4 linked regions of the Homo sapiens genome follow. The protein of the gene in region 4 purifies or fractionates together with the protein of the main gene of each other region. This does not show direct contact. Each region holds a gene or a part of one and is shown on either strand. Other genes may lie near its edges. The genes, in order: PDCD6, ST13, SEPHS1 and CLIC4.

Region 1 (4,606 bases), on a different chromosome or scaffold from region 4:
TTCCGACATGAGCAATATCAAATATGAACCTGCATGACGTCAACAAAAACTTTACGTAGCCTGGTTAGACAATCAGTTAAGTCCAACAAGGTTTAAAGAACTTCAACGGCTCCAAGGTTCCAAAATGAAACACGCTACACAAGCCAGAGTGAGTGAGTTACCGAAACCTGAGAGGGCCTGCTTCAGCTCGTTCTTATCGATCATCCCGGAGTTGTCCCGGTCGTACGTGCGGAAGACGTTCTGCCAGTCCGTGATGTACTTCCACACACCCGTGAACTCGCTGAAGTTCACGCCGGCCTTGTTCTCACGGTCAAACATGGCTGAGACAGAGAGGAACGGTCAAGCAGCAAAAGATCAGTTGCAGCAAACTCACTTGAGGCTTCCCACCAGACCTCAGCCCTCAGAGCCTGGCGGGGCCCCACTGCTGACCACTAACCAGGGACTGGGCAATGCATGCCTGTCTGTGAATGGGGTGAAATCCCTTAAAGTCTTGTCACCTTCGCCCTGGGTGGGGGTGTGGGGGATTGTCCCCCAGCCCTGACCCCCTAAGTCCCAGGAGAAGGTGCACTTGCAGCTGTGAGGCAGGCCGTGCAATGGGATGTGTGAGGAAATCCAGCCGCAGCCACGACAGAAAGAAGAGCAGAGCTTCACACTCAGCTTCCGAGGCACGGGGAAGGTAAGTGGCCCCAGCTCCCCTGGCTCCTGGGTCTCGGCCTAGAACGCGAATCTAATTCCCAGAGCTGACCCTCTGACTCTCCAGGGCCCACAGCACTGGTGGAGTCTTGGAACAGCCCTGTCAGGAAAACCTGCTTTAATTAGAAACAGACCCTCGCCTATGTCCTATTTGCTTTCAGTCTAACTCCAGGTCCAAATACAAAAGAATCTATAACTACCTTTATATGTAGTTGCAATATGGCTAAAAAACATAGAAAAATTCAGTGTGAATTACTGCTGCAGAGAAAATGATAAATCACGTGGTCTCTTTTCAAGAACAGAGGTTAATACAGGACTGCAATAAGACTACTCCTGGTTTGATCAGAAATATGTTACAATTAAATGAAAATCCACAGGATGAAAAATCATGTGAGAAACAGCATCGATGTTTCTTCCCAACAGTCCACAACCCTGTGTGCAACCAGTGGCTGTTTTTCACACAACCGTTCCACGACGTGCACCGTTCCACGACGTGTGTGGTGTGTGGACCAGGGGCTGTTTTTCATACGACCATTCCACGATGTGTGCAGTGTGTGTGGACGATGCTGTTGCGTGCAGGACCCACTGCGCACCACACACCAGCAGGGAAGGATGCTGGGTGAGCTGCACCCCAGGGTAAGGGCTCCGCAGAGGAGTGGCTCCCAGGCCATTCCTCTCCGGTGGGGAGGTAGCTCCCCATGTATCAACACCTTTTCTAGCACTAAAGGCTGAGCCCTGCCACTACTACACTTCCAAGTTTTCTCTCCCTCCATCAGTGTGACGTAGCAACATATGCACGACCAGCAGGGCACAGTCATCTGGAAAAGCCCCCAGCTACACCCACACTAGGACTCAGACACCTCACCACACACAGGCTCCGCAAGGAACTCAGGGAATCCTCACAAGACTAAAACACGTGCATGGATGGGAGGCGAGGGAATGAGCCCCAGGCCGCTCTGGGAAACCTCGAGACACAATGCCATGGTCCCTGTGAGGCAGAACTGAACCTGGGATTCCATATTAAAGAGGTCTGAAGGGGGCTGCACCTCCCAGCAAAGGGAACCTTCCAGAAATCAAGTCGGGTAGGGATGGAAACATGACTCTCCTGAACACCTGCCTCCCAGGCCTGCCTGCCCCTGGAGCTGCAGCTCCCACCTGGCTACGGGGGATGGAGACACAGCACGACTCTCCTGAACACCTGCCTGCGCCTGGAGCCTCAGCTCACACCCCGGCTACCGTCTGGGCATGGGGGTGCACACCTGTAATCCCCACTTTTTGGGAGGCTGAGGCAGGAGGATTGCGTGAGCCCAGGAATTCCAGACCAGGCCTGGGCAGCACAGGGACACCCTGTCTCTTAAAAGAAACAAACAAAAACCCAGCTGCCTATACAGCTGGGGAGACCCTGGACCCAAAGAAATGATGCAGACCCTCACATTAAGGCTACACATGAACCCACAAAACAAACAAAAATTACAGAAGCATCAAGGAAGTTGGTCACTCTGTGTGGGCTTGAGCAGGAAAAATATCTGGCTGTAGACCACCCTCCCAAGGACTTCAAACACAGTCAAGGAGCTCCATGTCACAAATATCTAGCGCTTTTCAAAAAAGCATGTTCTTAAAACTGAAGACTATCATATGAAATATTTGAATAAAGAATGGAATCACAAAAATAAATAAGCAATGTCTATCAAAAACACCCAGATAAGATGTGAAAGTAACTAATAATTTAGAAATTTTAAATATATGTCATCTTTAGAATTAGAAACTGAAAGGACAGGTTACACCGTACATTAAAAATAAACAGAATCAAGAATAGAGCAAACATACACGGAGAGATGTGAAAAGGTACAGAGACGGAGGGAGAGGGATGAAAGGGCCGACGCTCATCTAAGTGGAATTCCAGAAGGGAGCAAAGTGATACGGACCCACAGACAAAGGAAACACAAGCGGGTACCCAAGCGGGTCGGATACAAAGCAGCCCAGGTTGGTCCGTCTGCCGATACTTACATATGATCGACCTGACAGTCACTGGATTAAAGGGAGTCCACGTGCCTGAAAACAAACAACAACAGGAGTTAAAGTAAAAGGAAAATCTTTCTGGGACACTGAGTTTGTGATCTATACCTGGAGGCACCAGGAAAAGCAGTGGGGGCTCTAAGGTAGTGGTTTTCTAGACACTCCAGGTGACGTGTCGGCTGCCATGACTCCTGGGAGGGGGCCAAAGCACTGCCTGGTGGGTTCACACCCTGCTGTGTGTGGGAGTCCTTCGTGGCCTCCCAGACCTCCAAGGCCGTCCACAGTCATCGCGGCTGGACATGCACTCTTATTTAACAGATAACCAAGAAATGGTTCTGTATCATTTTACACACAGAATTTTTCAAGGATGCAGTCACCAGCTAAGTTGAGAAGTTCGCACTTAGTTTTGTTAGAGGACTTCACGAATTCCCATTTCAGAAAATCCATCATCAAGGCCACCACTGCCTGCAGACACCTGAACATAGCTTGGTCGCTGTGGCATTCACACTAATTCTACTGAAAGGTGCAAGTACCAGACCCCTTCCTTCCGTTCTCCCTCAGTAATCATCCTAAAGCACGGTGAAGACATCCATCACACCACACTTCAAACATTCCTGACAAATTACGGTCTGGGCTTTATATGATTTTCCTTGAAACTGAATAGGAAAGCTGTACTATCCTCAGACTCATCGTTGAATCTGATACCCTTGAGCGCTCACAACCATTTATCAACTCTGAGAATGAAGATTCACTGATGACCTTCGCACACAAGAACCTATCTTCAGAGTGATTTGTACCTTCAGTAATTTCCATACTCACTAAAAATGAACTAAAAAAATATTTTTAAGGTCAGGAGAGACCAGTGGCTCTCCTCATACCCCGTCTGTGTTAGACACACAGTTTTTTTTTTTTTTTATGCACAAAAATGCCACAGTCCTGGGCAGTACACAGAGACAGCCCCCTGATCTCAGAGAACAATGTCAGGCTCCTGGTGGAGCACGGGCGGTGGGGTCTGCTGGCATGGTCCCTTAGGCCTCTACGTGCCACCACTCTGGGCTCATGGGGCTCCTCCTAGTGCCATGCCCGCTCTCACCTGAAGTGCGTCCCCTCCTAAGACACACACACCCTCCCTCCAGCTCCTTCCTTTCCTTCCTCAGGGAGACTTCCACGGGGGTACCACATTCTCCCAGCCCAGAAGTTAAATCCATTTGCTCCGCCTGAGCACCTCCCAACTTCCCCTTGGGAAGATCCCGCCCTCCAGCAGTTATGCAGGGAAGCTGTGCTCTTCCCACAAAGGCAGGTGCACCTGAACCTGAGGCATACACACAGAGCAGCACTCAATGATCCGCCCTCCAGCAGTTATGCAGGGAAGCTGTGCTCTCCCCACAAAGGCAGGTGCACCTGAACCTGTGGCCCACACACACAGCACTCGATGACCCACCCTCCAGCAGTTATGCAGGGAAGCTGTGCTCTCCCCACAAAGGCAGGTGCACCTGAACCCGTGGCCCACACACACAGCAGCACTCGATGACCCACCCTCCAGCAGTTATGCGGGGAAGCTGTGCTCTTCCCACAAAGGCAGGTGCACCTGAACCCATGGCATACACACAGAGCAGCACTCGATGACCCGCCCTCCAGCAGTTATGCAGGGAAGCTGTGCTCTCCCCACTAAGGCAGGTGCACCTGAACCCGAGGCATACACACACACACACACACACACAGCAGCAGCACTCCATGACCCGCCCTCCAGCAGTTATGCAGGGAAGCTGTGCTCTCCCCACAAAGGCAGGTGCACCTGAACCTGAGGCATACACACAGAGCAGCACTCCACGACCCACCCTCCAGCAGTTATGCAGGGAAGCTGTGCCCTTCCCACAAAGGCAGGTGCACCTGAACC
Region 2 (4,606 bases), on a different chromosome or scaffold from region 4:
CTGGTCTACATACTTAGAAAATTACGATATTCTGAATTAAGAAAGATTTTGTTTGTTTTTTAGCTTTTAGTAGAAAAGCAGCTTTAAATAGAGGAAATTTAAATGTTTTCAGGTTTTTATAGAGTTAACTAAAATGGGATATAGTAATTGAATTGGTTAGTGAAAGTTTATAGTTAATATTTAACTTAAGCCTGTTTTAGAACAATCCTTTTTTGTAAGGAAGAAAGATATCATGCCACATAGGTGAATATGTATAAAAGGCTCCTAAAATGAGTGTAAATCTGTTTCAGACTTCTAGGCCACTGGGAAGAAGCAGCCCATGATCTTGCCCTTGCCTGTAAATTGGATTATGATGAAGATGCTAGTGCAATGCTGAAAGAAGTTCAACCTAGGGTATGTCAAAGTAGAGAAAGGGAAAGTCATTAGTTAAATACTCCATCGCTGTAGTGCTTAGCCCCCGACAGCTGTAATTCATCTGAAAAACAGGCAAAGAAACAAACCATTGGAAGATATAATCTGTAATTGCTGAAGTTTGTGCTCGACTCTGGAGATCTCATTAGGTTTTCATGCTTTCATTTCTCATGCATTATTAGAGCAAACTCTGTTACTTTGTTTGGAAGCCTGCAGTGGAATTATAACCAGAAAATTAGAAAAGGGGGTATCAGGTTTACAACAAGGAAACAAATAGAAAATCTATAATTAGCATTACCCAGGATTGAATCTGATGTGTCCTTATTTATCATAGGTGTGTACAACCACTTTATAAAGCAAGAAGACCTTGTGGAAGTTAAGAAGTTTCAGGCTTTCCGGCCAGGCGCGGTGGCTCATGCCTGTAATCCCAGCACTTTGGGAGGCCGAGGCAGGTGGATCATGAGGTCAGGAGTTCAAGACCAGCCTGGCCAACGTAGTGAAACCCTGTCTCTACTAAAAGTACAAAAAGTTAGCCAGGTGTGGTGGCATGCGCCTACGTAGTCCCAGCTACTCGGGAGGCTGAGGCAGGAGAATCACTTGAACCTGGGAGGTGGAAGGTTGCAGTGAGCCAAGATCACGCCACAGCACTCCAGCCTGGGTGACAGAGCGAGGCTGTCTTAATAAAACAAAGAAGTTTCAATCTTTTAAAAATAATAATATTGAATCCCAAAAGTAGAACATTCCAGCTTTTAAGGATGATTTTTATCTAAAATTGTTGGTTAAAATAATTTTAATGTGTTTACATGGTAAATCCTTCATTTTGTGGGAAGTTCAGCTGTCAAGAATTTACTCTCAGAGATTTTAAGATAGTGGGAATTGTATTGAATTTAATTATTTACTGCCAGAGAGTTCATTTGGTTTTCTGTTTTCTTCTTAAAATAGGGCAAAGTTGTAACTTTGTCAGCAAAGTGTAAACAAGCTAAAGTGACAGTTGAATATGAATCTCTTAAATGTATTTTATTCTCTGAGGAAATAACATCCAGAGCATTTATTTGATACTAGTGTCTGGTATACATATTTACATTTTTCCCTCTTAATCCCTATAGCAATTTGATAATATTAAATATTTCTTCCTCTCCCATTTTATGGATACAGAAACTTAAATATACTGTGGCATATACTTGGGGTATGAGTTCCCAGTCTCTGCCTTCCCACGGCAGACATCCGTAATAATACTCTTCCTACTGAATTCAGCTGTCCGTCTGAAACCTAAACACTGTGTATCTGATAGAAACTAGCAGGCAAGAATTGTCATGCACTTAGAAACCTGTTTGTTAATCTTTGAGCTTAATTGTTTGAGATTATAACATTTCTAACTTCAAATCCCAGGCCCCTTTACTCTGTTTTACAGTGCCTCATGCAGTTGAGGTTGGTTTTCTTAAAGGCTTAGCTTGTGTTAGGTCTTTTTGTACAAGACAAATCTGTCATTTTTCTGAACTGCATGTTGAATTAAACATCTCTCTACAAAGAATATTTGTGTTGATGTTATTCAGCTTTTGGAGCAAGCTTATTTTGCTATGGCTCTTTTTTCTAGGCACAGAAAATTGCAGAACATCGGAGAAAGTATGAGCGAAAACGTGAAGAGCGAGAGATCAAAGAAAGAATAGAACGAGTTAAGAAGGCTCGAGAAGAGCATGAGAGAGCCCAGAGGGTAAATTTCCTATAGCTAAGCCATGAAAGGAAAATACGGCAAATTATGTAGAGGCATTAGGACACTAAAATTTTAATTCCTGGCTCTTTTATTTAATGCTGGCTACAGTTCTATAGAGTAATGATATTACTTATGGGGAGTCTCCTTTCACTGTATCTAATTTGGGGGACATTTTTAGTCTTAAATTATTCAGTGAGCTTTTATTTCACCATTTTATATTCTTGTTTGTGTTTTTATAAAATCAGTTGTTTTTCCAGGTCAAGTAATTGAAATGTGACAGTATTATTGTTTGATCTTTTGAGGATGCTTCGCCAGATTAATTAAATTTATGATTCCTCCTCTCTTCCAACAGTGGATGTGTTGCTATTTAAAAATGATTCTAGCAGGGCAAGGTGGCAAGTGCCTATAGTCCCAGCTCTTGGGAGGCTGTGGTGGGAGGTTCACTTGAGCCCAGGAGTTCGAGACTAGCCTGGGCAACATAGTGTGATGCTACAATAATTCACCTACTTATTTCTAACATTATTGAATGAAAGAACATGAAAGAACCTAAGGCTGTATTATATAATATGTTACATTCTAATTTTTTGTCCATTTAATATTAAGCATCATACTTGATTTTAAGGTTATAGTTTATAATCTTTAAAAGTAATTTATCTCCTTGATATTTAAAAGCAATATATCTCCTCAATAATTTTAAAACTACATATGAGGGATATTTATTTTTTGTTCATTTTCTCTTTTAAAAAGCAGCAAAAACAAATCAATAAATCTACATTTGTATTATGTAGGGAGAATAACGGAAAAGATGTACCTAGGAAACAAAAGTCATGGTAGTCTTGGTAATCTAGCCATGTCCTTCCCTATGGGTGTTTTAAAGCCAGGATGAATTTAGAGTTTTCATATTAGTACTATAAATTGTTTTCCAGGTTTACTTGTTTCCAGAGTAGAAGTAAAACACTTTACTTGAAATTACTACCAAGAATAATGCCCACTGAGAATCCAGTTTGGAAAAAATGTTTGAAGGGGGTATGAAGTATATCCTTCAGTTCAGTATTGCCATCTACTAGGTTATTTTACAATTTTTTCATGGTCTTGCATGGACAGGTTGCATGGACAGCACTTATTTCTTCTTCTATTATATAATTTATTTCCTTTTGTATCAAAGGAGGAAGAAGCCAGACGACAGTCAGGAGCTCAGTATGGCTCTTTTCCAGGTATATTTAAAGAAAAGTTAAAACTGTTTTGTTCTATTATACAGTGATATTTTAATATAATACTTAATATTTATTATAAAGTGATATTCTGATTTTGTTCTCTTATACAGTGATATTCATGAAGAACCTAGGTAAAAGAAATGATGGAATTATTAGGCATAAAAATGATGTTTTTTGTACAGTGTAAAAATAGCGTATTTTTCTTTCAAATGTGATCAGAAATTGCTAGTGAGGCAAATCTTTGAATACCAGAGGACAGGACTAACACAGAGATAGAAGAGACGGAAAAGGCACGCAGAAGATTTATTGAGTACTTCCTGATTACGACAGTGTGGAATTTATATAAAGACCAGGACAAGACTTAATTTTTTGTTTTTTAAACAACTGTCTCCAGTTGTTTAATGGTAACTAGCTTTCTCTTAAGGAAAGTTTTTAGAGGCTACGTATGCTTATATGTCACTGGTTAGAACTTAGTTGCATGATCCGATGCTAGAAAATCTAGCCTTTATTCTGAAAGAGTATGTGCACAGCAACAGAAAACAAACCTAGAACAAATATTGAGGATGACCTGCTGTTTGAAGAAAAAGCAAGAAATTAAATTTAGCTCATAGTTTACTTCCTATGTAAAATATAAATAATCTTATTGTCAGATATCTTTGTTTTAGAAAGTGACTGCTAATGTTGGGCTAGTACTAGAGAGAATTTTCTGTTATGTACATTTTATTTAGATTTGACAAGCTTTGGGTCAGTAATTTCGTTACGGGTAGGCACTAATTTTTCAAAGCTTTGGGATAAGTAGGGGCAGCAAGAGAAACTAGAAGTTGTTTTATGGTCCCCTTAGATTTCTTCATCTCTGATTGTTAGTTATTAATGGCCATATTTTAATTAACTGTGGAAGCAGGTAAAAATGACTTTATCATGTGTTTCCTTCTTTAAAACGGCTTTACTTACAGTGACCCTTTGTAGAATACATTAATGTTGTCTTTCTCTATATTATTTTTTTTTTTATTATTGAGACAGAGCCTCGCTCTGTCGCCCAGGCTGGAGTGCAGTGGCGTGATCTTGGCTCACTGCAAGCTCCGCCTGCCGGGTTCACGCCATTCTCCTGCCTCAGCCTCCCGAGTAGCTGGGACTACAGGCGCCTGCCACCACGCCCGGCTAATTTTTTTTTTTTTTTGTATTTTTAGTAGAGACGGGGTTTCACCGTGTTAGCCAGGATGGTCTCGATCTCCTGACCTCGTGATCTGCCCGCCTCGGCCTCCCAAAGTGC
Region 3 (4,606 bases), on a different chromosome or scaffold from region 4:
AAACTTGAGTTTCCAGTAGGCTCTTTCCTGCCCTTGAACATGGGCTGTAGTCATCAGTGGTGCATGGTGGTCTTGGCGCAGGCTCTGTCAGTGTGGGTTACTCGTAGCCTGCAGCCAAGCCTTGGTAGGATGGATGCCTACTGCAGGGCAGGGGACCTGTGCTTAGGAAGCCAGTCTTGAGATTCTCAAGGAGCACTGGACAGCTGGCTTCCAGCAGTCATCAGACCTAGGGCTGGTCCTGTGCACTGAGTCCAGACAATGTTGGTGTCTGGGCTTTATTTACATTGTTGTCTAGAACATCTTCCAGCATTGGATAAAATGATGACAATGTGAAATATTTTCTAGCTTTTGTTTTTGTTTGTTTTTGAGACAAGATCTCCCTGTGTTGCCCAGGTTGGAGTGCAGTGGTGTGATGAGAGCTCACTGCAGCAGCCTCAGCCTCCCGGGCTCAAGACATCCTCCCACTTCAGCCTCCGGAATAGCTGGGACCACAGGCACATGCCACCACACCAAGCAATATTTTTTTTTTTTGTTTTTGAGATGAAGTCTCACTCTTGTGCCCAGGGCTGGAGTGCAGTGATGCGATCTTGGCTAACTACAACCTCTGCCTCCCAGGTTCAAGCGATTCTCCTGCCTCAGCCTCCCAAGTAGCTGGGATTACAGGCGCATGCTACCACACCCGGCTAATTTTTGTATTTTTAGTAGAGACGGGGTTTCACCATGTTGGCCAGGCTGGTCTCAAACTCCTGACCTCAGGTGATCTGCCCGCCTCAGCCTCCCAAAGTGCTGGGAATACAGGCATGAGCCACTGTGCCCGGTCACCCAGCAATTTTTACATGTTTCGTAGAGAAAGGGGTCTGTCTGCATTGCCCAGACTGGTCTTAAACTCCTGGGCTCAAGCTCTCTGCCCACCTCGGACTCCCAAAGTGCTGGGATTACAGGCGTGAGCGATTATGCCTGGCCCCTAACAACCTTCCCTGTCTGTAAACTTTGAGGACTTCCTTTAGGATTTTATGGTTCTTTTTATAACTGTAAGTGTAAAAACCTTCTTTTCTGGGTTTTGAACAGAATTCTTTGACTTTTTATTTGTACCTTTTTCAACCTTAGGAAAGGGATAAAGTGATGCCTCTGATTATCCAAGGTTTTAAAGACGCAGCTGAGGAAGCAGGAACATCTGTAACAGGCGGCCAAACAGTACTAAACCCCTGGATTGTCCTGGGAGGAGTGGCTACCACTGTCTGCCAACCCAATGAATTTATCATGTAAGTTGATTTTTGTTTCATATCACCTGACCTGTTTTTCTCTCTCTGTCCTCTCTTTTTAAAAATTGATGTATTAAGGTCAGGTGCAGTGGCTCACACATATGATCCCAGACTTTGGTAGGCCGAGGCGGGCAGATCACCTGAGGTCAGGAGTTTGAGACCAGCCTGGCCAATGTGGCGAAACCCTGTCTCTACTAAAAATACAAAAATTAGCCAGGCATGGTGGGGCAAGCCTGTAGTTTCAGCTACTCTGGAGGCTGAGGCAGGAGAATCGCTTGAACCCCAGGGGTGGAGGTTGCAGTGAGCTGAGATCATGCCCCTGCACTCTAGCCTGGGCAACAGAACAAGATTCTGTCTCCAAAAAAAAAAAAGACAAGAACGCAAGGCTGGGCGCGGTTGCTCATGCCTGTAATCCCAGCGCTTTTGGAGGCCAAGGCGGGTGGATCACCTGAGGTTGGGAGTTTGAGACCAGCCTGACCAACATGGAGAAACCCCATCTCTACTAAAAATACACAATTAGCCAGGCATGATGGTACATGCCTGTAATCCCAGCTACTTGGGAGGCTGAGGCAGGAGAATCACTTGAACCCAGGAGGCTGCGGCTGCAGTGAGCCAAGATCGCGCCACTGCACTCCAGCCTGGGCAACAAGAGCGAAACTCCATCTCAAAAAAAAAAAAAAATAGATGTATTAAGATATAATTTGCGTACTATACCATTCACCCATTTAAAGAGTCAGTGGTTTGGAGTATACTCAGAGTTGTACAGCCATTACCGGAGTTGATGTTAGGATGTTTTCATTGCTACAGGAAGAAACCCCATCCTCCTCGGCTCTCACTGTTCACTCCTGCTCCATCCTGGATTTTGTCACTTAGCATAGTATTAGCATACTTTTAAGGGTCATCTATTTTGTAGCATGTGTCAGTATTTTAATCCTATTTTTAAGACATTTTAGGTGTTTTTGTTTTTTTTTTTTGAGACGGAGTCTTACTCCGTCGCCCAGGCTGGAGTGCAGTGGTATGATCTCGGCTCACTGCAAGCTCCATCTCCCGGGTTCATGCCATTCTCCTGCCTCAGCTTCCCGAGTAGCTGGGACTACAGGCACCTGCCACCATGCCCGGCTAATTTTTTGTATTTTTAGTAGAGATGGGGTTTCACCATGTTAGGCAGGATGGTCTCGATCTCCTGATCTCATGATCCGACCGCCTCAGCCTCCCAAAGTGCTGGGATTACAGGCGTGAGCCACCGCGCCCGGCTGACATTTTAGGTTTTTTAGTTGAAGTATAATTCACGTAACAAAATTTCACATAACATAGAATTCAGCATTTTGAAGTACACAATGTGTTGGTTTTTAGTATTGACAAGGTTGTGCACCCATCACCACTATCCAATTCCAGAATGTTTTCATCACCCCAAAAAGAAGCCCTGTAGCTCACTCCCATTTCCCTCCTGCTCCCATCCTCTGGCAACCAAGAATGTGCTTTTGTCTCTAAGGATTTGCCTGTTCTGGACATTGTATAGAAATGGAATCGTGCAGCATGACATGCTGTGTCTGGCTTCACTCCCATAGCGGAATGTTTTCCGGGTCCATCCGTGTTGTAGCATGAATCGGTATCGCATTCCTTTCCATGGCTGTATAATCCATTGCATGGATGGACCCTGCTTTATTTAGCCATTCCTCAGGTGACGGACCTTTGGGTTGTTTCCACCTATTAGGAATGATGCTGCCATGAACATTCTAAGTTTTTGTGTGGACATAAGTTCCGGTCTCTTGGGTGTATACCTAAGAATTGACTGGGTCATGTGGTAATTATGTTTAACTTGAGGAATCATCAGACTGGTCTCCAACATGGCTGCGCCATTTTACGTTCCCAGCAGCAATGTATGAGGATTCCAATTTCTCTATGACCCCTCCAGTACTTGTTTTCCTGTCTGTCTTTTGGATTCTAGCCAGCCTACTGGGTGTGAAGTGGAATGTCTTTGTGGTTTTGATTTGTGTCTGCCTGATGACTGATGAGGCCGAGCATCTTTTCATGTGCTTACTACCCATTTGTGTATCTTCTTTGGAGAAGTTTCTCTCCTAACCAAGTTGTCACTTTCCATGTTTGATGTCTTGTTAAGAAAAGTCAGTCTTTTGGCCGGGCGTGGTGGCTCATGCCTGTAATCCCAGCACTTTGGGAAGCCAAGACGGGTGGATCATCTGAGGTCAGGAGTTCAAGACCACCCTGGCCAACATGGTGAAACCCTGTCTCTACTAAAAATACAAAAAATTAGCCGGGCACGATGGCAGGCGCCTGTAATCCCAGCTACTCAGGAGACTGAGGAGAGTGGTTTGAACCCAGGAGGCGGAGGTTGCAGTGAGCCAAGATCGTGCCACTGTACTCCAGCCTGGGTGACAGAGTGAAACTCAGTTTCAAAAAAAAAAGATCTAGAATTAGAAATACCATTTGACCCAGCAATCCCATTACTGGGTATATACCCAAAGGATTATAAATCATGCTGCTGTAAAGACGCATGCACACATATGTTTATTGCAGCACTATTCACAATAGCTAAGACTTGGAACCAACTCAAATGTCCATCAATGATAGACTGGATTAAGAAAATGTGGCACATACACACCGTGGAATACTACGCAGCCGTAAAAAAGGATGAGTTCATGTACTTTGCAGGGAGATGGATGAAGCTGGAAACCATCATTCTAAGCAAACTATCAAAAGGACAGAAAACCAAACGCCGCATGTTCTCACTCATAGGTGGGAGTTGAACAATGAGAACACTTGGACACAGGGCGGGTAACATCACACACCAGGGCCTGTCGGGGGTAGGGGGCTGGGGGAGGGATAGCATTAGGAGATATACCTAATGTAAAGGACGGGTTGATGGGTACAGCAAACCAACATGGCACATGTATACCTATGTATCAAACCTGCATGTTGTGTACATGTACCCTAGAACTTAAAGTATAATTTTAAAAAATTTAAAAAAAAAGAACATCAACTTTATGGTACAACTGAGTCTGAATTCGAAGACATTTATGTCTTCAGGTCTGGTTTTTGGAAAACAAGTTTCTTGCGTAGTCACAGAATTCTATTTTTCAAAGCTGAGAGTGGATACAAATGGTATAGGTTGAGCTGGGGAGCTGGGTGTTGGTATTGAAGTCTGTGGCCCTGGCTTTGTTTTCATCGACTTGGGTGAGTACCTGAGGAGGCCAGCATCGGGGAATGGAACGATTCAGGAGCTCAGCTGCTGAAGCTGCGAAAGGCACAACTCTCAGACCTGCTTCCTGGTAGTGTGAATGCAAGTCTGGTAGATGTTTCATTCGGGCACCAGTTGTCATCTTTTA
Region 4 (4,606 bases):
CATCAATGTAGAAAAATTCATTGTTATCTTACTTCAAGAAATTGCCACAGCCACCCCAACCAGCAATCACCATTCTGATCGGTCAGTAGCCAGCTACATCAAGGCAAGACCCTCCATCGGCAAAAAGATTGACTCGCTGAAGGCTCAGATAACCATTAGCATTTTTTAGCAATGATTTTTTTTTGAGACGGAGTTTTGCTTTTGTCACCCAGGCTGGAGTGCAGTGGCACGATCTTGGCTCACTACAACCTCTGCCTCCCTGGTTCAAGCAATTCTCCTGCCTCAGCCTCCCGAGTAGCTGGGATTACAGGTGCCTGCCACCACGCCCAGCTAATTTTTTTTGTATTTTTTAGTAGAGACGGGGTTTCTTCATGTTGGTCAGACTGGTCTCGAACTCCCAACCTCAGGTGATCCATCCGCCTCAGCCTCCCAAAGTGCTGGGATTACAGGCATGAGCCACCACACCCAGCCTAGCAATGAAGTATTTTTAAATTAAGGTACATGCAATATTTTCAGACATAATGCTATTATTGCACACTTAAAACACTACAGTATACTACTGTAAATATAACTTTTACATGCACTGGGAAACGAAAAATTTCACGTGACTCATTTTATTCCAATATTCATTTTATCACTGTGGTCTGGAACCTAACTCGCAATGGTCTGGAACCATACCCTTCAGGGTATGCCTATAATTATTTTAGAACCCTCCATCTCAATAATCCCATTCCTGGAAAATATATCTGGACATGGAGGGCAACAGTCAAGTTAACCAGTAAGAAAGGTTTTGGTCAGTAGAAACAAAACATGTCAATTTTCAGGATAATGAAACTGGAAAAGCCTAAAAGAAACAAATAATGCTTTGAATCTATGCCAATATTACAGTATGATGCAAAGCTGCATATCTGCAATTTAGGTAACTATCATTACAGTACATCCAGGACCTAGAGATCTGGAACACCTCAAAGAAGTAAGTAAATAAAAACTCTGAATCCTAGGGACACAGTCGGAAAAGTCAATGTCCTTGGATTATAGCTTTAGAAAGTTACCTTTAAAATGAACTGAAATCAAATCTCATTGCAGTCCTGTGCCACACTCCTGCTAAGACATTCTTACTGGGTTCAGTTGGAATGTGTCTTTCCCCACCCCTTCTCCTCTTTAAACTTCTCTCTCAGTTTGAGACCTACAGTCCACAAATAACCAGTCTTTCCTGACCTATCAGACACATCCCAAATCTGTTTCTACCACATATTCTACAGCTTAGACAAATCCCCACCTTTCTTAGTATGGCTGATTGGCCTAGCTGGAAGCCAATTCTTATATCTGTGTAGCATTAATTATAAGAAACATAGAAGAGAGTCCTAGTCATTCCAAATTAATGCTGCGAGAAAGATCTCTACTGACAAATAACACAAGCTTCAAAGAAGTGACAATATTTTCATACGTATTTTCCTTGATACTCACTTGGGAGGGCATAAGACTTCTTCAAGAAATTCCTCAATCTTATTTACATCCGTTTTGACTTCACTGTTGAAAGTTATAAATGGTGGGTGGGTCCCGGGAGCCAAGTTCTGCAGGTCTGCTGGCTTCCTGTTGGGCAAAATATTGGTCAAAATCAGATCATTTTTTACTCTTAAACAACAATAATACTTTAAATTCTCAAAGTTGGCCAGGCACGGTGGCTTGCGTCTGTAGTCGTAGCACTACAGGAGGCTGAGGTGGGACACTGCTTAGCCCAGGAGTTTGAGACCCAGCCTGGGCAACATGGTAAGATCCTGTCTCCACAAAACATAAAAAATTAGCCAGGCATGGTGGTGCGTGTCTATAGTACCAGCTACCAGGGAGGCTGAGGTGGAAGGATCACTTGAGCCTGGGAAGTTGAGGCTGGAGTGAGCCATGATCGCACCACTGCACTCCAGCCTGGGCGACAGAGAGACCCTGTCTCAAAAAGAAAATAAATAAATTGTCCGGGCATGGTGGCTCATGTCTGTAATCCCAGCCCTTTGGGAGGCCGAGGCGGGTGGATCACCTGAGGTCAGGAGTTTGAGACCAGCTTGGCCAGCATGGTGAAACCCCATCTCTGCTAAAAATATAAAAATTAGCTGGGCATGGTGGTGCGCACCTGTAGTTCCAGCTACTTGGGAGGCTGAGGAAGGAGGATCACTTGAACCCGGGAGGCGGAGGTTGCAGTGAGCTGAGAATGTACCACTGCACTCCAGCCTAGGTGACAGAGTAAAACCCTGTCAGAAAAGAAAAAGAAAAAGAGAAAAAGAAAAAGAAAAGAGATCAAAGTGGTTCTAAAATTTAAAGTATATAAAACTGAATAAGAAATGGTATTTTTCAGCCGGGCACGGTGGCTCACGGCTGTAATCCCAGCACTTTGGGAGGCCAAGGCAGGAGGATCACGAGGTCAGAAGTTTGAGACCAGCCTGACCAACATGGTGAAACCCCATCTCTACTAAAAATACAAAAGTTAATTGGGCGTGGTGGCATGTGCCTGTAATCCCAGCTACTCAGGAGGCTGAGGCAGGAGAATCGCTTGAATCCCGGAAGCAGAGGCTGCAGTCAGCAGAGATCTCACCACAGCACTCCAGCCTGGGCGACAGAGCAAGACTCCATCTTAAAAAAAAAAAAAAAGAAAGAAAGAAAGAAAGAAAGGTATTTTTCAACCAGGTGTGGTGGCTCACGCCTCTAATCCCAGCATTTTGGGAGGCCAAGGTGGGCAGATCATGAGGTCAAGAGATTGAGACCCTCCTGGCCAACATGGTGAAACTCCGTCTCTGCTAAAAATATAAAAATTAGCTGGGCATGGTGGCATGCACCTGTAGTTCCAGCTACTTGGGAGGCTGAGGAAGGAGAACCACTTGAACCCGGGAGGCGGAGGTTACAGTGAGCCAAGATCGCACCACTGCACTCCAGCCTGGTGACAGAGCAATACTCTGTCTCAAAAAAAAGAAAGAAATAGTACTTTTCCACTAGATATAATAGCTGTAATAGTATTCTAATAAGAAGCAAGCCTCCACAAAATACATAATTTATGGTAAGAAAATGCTTTGATTTTTTTTTTAACCAAAATACAAAATCCATCATTCTCATTCCAAATTAACTAAGTCACTCATTAGAGATAGTGATAGAATGAGGAGGGAAAAAAGATTTTGGAGAGTTAGTGTCTGGTTTCAACTCTGGCCCCAACTAATTGTGTAAAGATGGGTAAGTCATGACTTCCCTAGGCCTTTTTTTTTCTTTTTGGCAAAATAAAAGAGAAAAGCAGCTGAATCCTGCAGTCATCTTCAACTTCAAAAGATTCCAAATTCTGGTGCTATTTCTTTCCCATTATTCTAGAAGTCCAGGCTTGACAAGGAAAAGGATCACCAGATTAGACTATCTAATATCAAAATTACTTCAATACATAAAAGATGGCATAATGAAGGGTAAAAAGCAACAAAGAATGGACAAAGTACTGAGTGAGAAAAGCTTAAAATCTACATTACCTAAGGATTTTGTCCAAATTCATTCCAAAGGTCATCAAAAAAATCAAATAGGTATGGGTCAAAAGAAATTGATGAGAGACAGATAAAACAAGTGAACACACAGAAAAATGTAAAATAGCACAACTATAAAGGGAATTTAAAAGTAAACAATAAGATGTCTTCCTCCTGTTGATTAGGAAAAATTGAAAACACCACAAAACACTGATAAAGATGGTGAAACTGTTATGCTGACAACTACTAACAGCAAGAAGTGTTTGTACTATCTTGTTAAAAAAGCAAAATGGCTCACCCAAACCCACCAATGAATTTTAGGATCAAAAAATGAGATGACCAGATATGGTGTGTTTCCTATGGCACCATGAAGTATTCTTACCAAAGAAGTTGACCCTGAATCTAATCAAGCCTCTGGGGCAGGCTGGGTGCAGTGGCTCATACCTGTAACATTAGCACTTTGAGAGGCCAAGGCAGGAGGATTGCTTGAGTCCAGGAGTTCAAGCGAGACCAGCCTGGGCAACATAGTGAGATCCCATCTCTATAAAAAAATTTTTTTTAATTAGCTGGGTGTGGTGGCATGTGCCTGTAGTCCCAGCTACTTGGGAGGCTGAGATGGGAGGATTGGTTGAGCCCAGGCGGTCGAGGCTGCAGTGAACAGTGATCATATCACTGCACTTCAGCCTGGGCAACAGAGTGAGACCCTGTCTCAAAACAACAACAACAACAAACCAAAACAAAGCAGCCTCTGGGGCAGCTGTTTCTCAAATTGTAAGCCAGGAGACCCTTTCACCAGGTGATCCATTAGGTCAGAACTATTCTTATAATACTAAGGCATCATTTGCCTTTTTCACTCTCATTCTCCTCTCGTGCACATATAGTAAAATTTTCCAAATTTACTTGGCTACTTGGTACAAGATATCACAAGGTAATGAATGCAGAAGCAGACACGAGAAACCTCTTCTAAGATGTGCAAAAATGTAAAAGAATGCCACTCTTCTCACTATTTTTTGTTTTGGGAAATATAGTTGTTTTACATTAAAAATGTTTTATGGTAATAAGTAGTGGGTTCATTATTGTTCTATATTTAATGAATTAGTAAATGATTTTTTTTTTTTTTC

The links.
Region 1: the proteins of CLIC4 (region 4) and PDCD6 fractionate together in Homo sapiens (co-fractionation; one large-scale study listed by BioGRID). This does not show direct contact.
Region 2: the proteins of CLIC4 (region 4) and ST13 fractionate together in Homo sapiens (co-fractionation; one large-scale study listed by BioGRID). This does not show direct contact.
Region 3: the proteins of CLIC4 (region 4) and SEPHS1 fractionate together in Homo sapiens (co-fractionation; one large-scale study listed by BioGRID). This does not show direct contact.

What each region holds. Positions count from the first base shown.
Region 1 is NC_000005.10:302,316-306,921, reverse strand, and holds part of PDCD6 (programmed cell death protein 6), read right to left. Parts: intron 2,746-4,606; coding exon 2,701-2,745; intron 321-2,700; coding exon 162-320; intron 1-161. UniProt on the Homo sapiens protein: Calcium sensor that plays a key role in processes such as endoplasmic reticulum (ER)-Golgi vesicular transport, endosomal biogenesis or membrane repair.
Region 2 is NC_000022.11:40,828,356-40,832,961, reverse strand, and holds part of ST13 (hsc70-interacting protein), read left to right. Parts: intron 1-290; coding exon 291-393; intron 394-2,005; coding exon 2,006-2,122; intron 2,123-3,287; coding exon 3,288-3,336; intron 3,337-4,606. UniProt on the Homo sapiens protein: One HIP oligomer binds the ATPase domains of at least two HSC70 molecules dependent on activation of the HSC70 ATPase by HSP40. Stabilizes the ADP state of HSC70 that has a high affinity for substrate protein.
Region 3 is NC_000010.11:13,330,473-13,335,078, reverse strand, and holds part of SEPHS1 (selenide, water dikinase 1), read left to right. Parts: intron 1-1,107; coding exon 1,108-1,262; intron 1,263-4,606. UniProt on the Homo sapiens protein: Synthesizes selenophosphate from selenide and ATP.
Region 4 is NC_000001.11:24,811,081-24,815,686, reverse strand, and holds part of CLIC4 (chloride intracellular channel protein 4), read right to left. Parts: intron 1,594-4,606; coding exon 1,468-1,593; intron 1-1,467. UniProt on the Homo sapiens protein: In the soluble state, catalyzes glutaredoxin-like thiol disulfide exchange reactions with reduced glutathione as electron donor. Can insert into membranes and form voltage-dependent multi-ion conductive channels.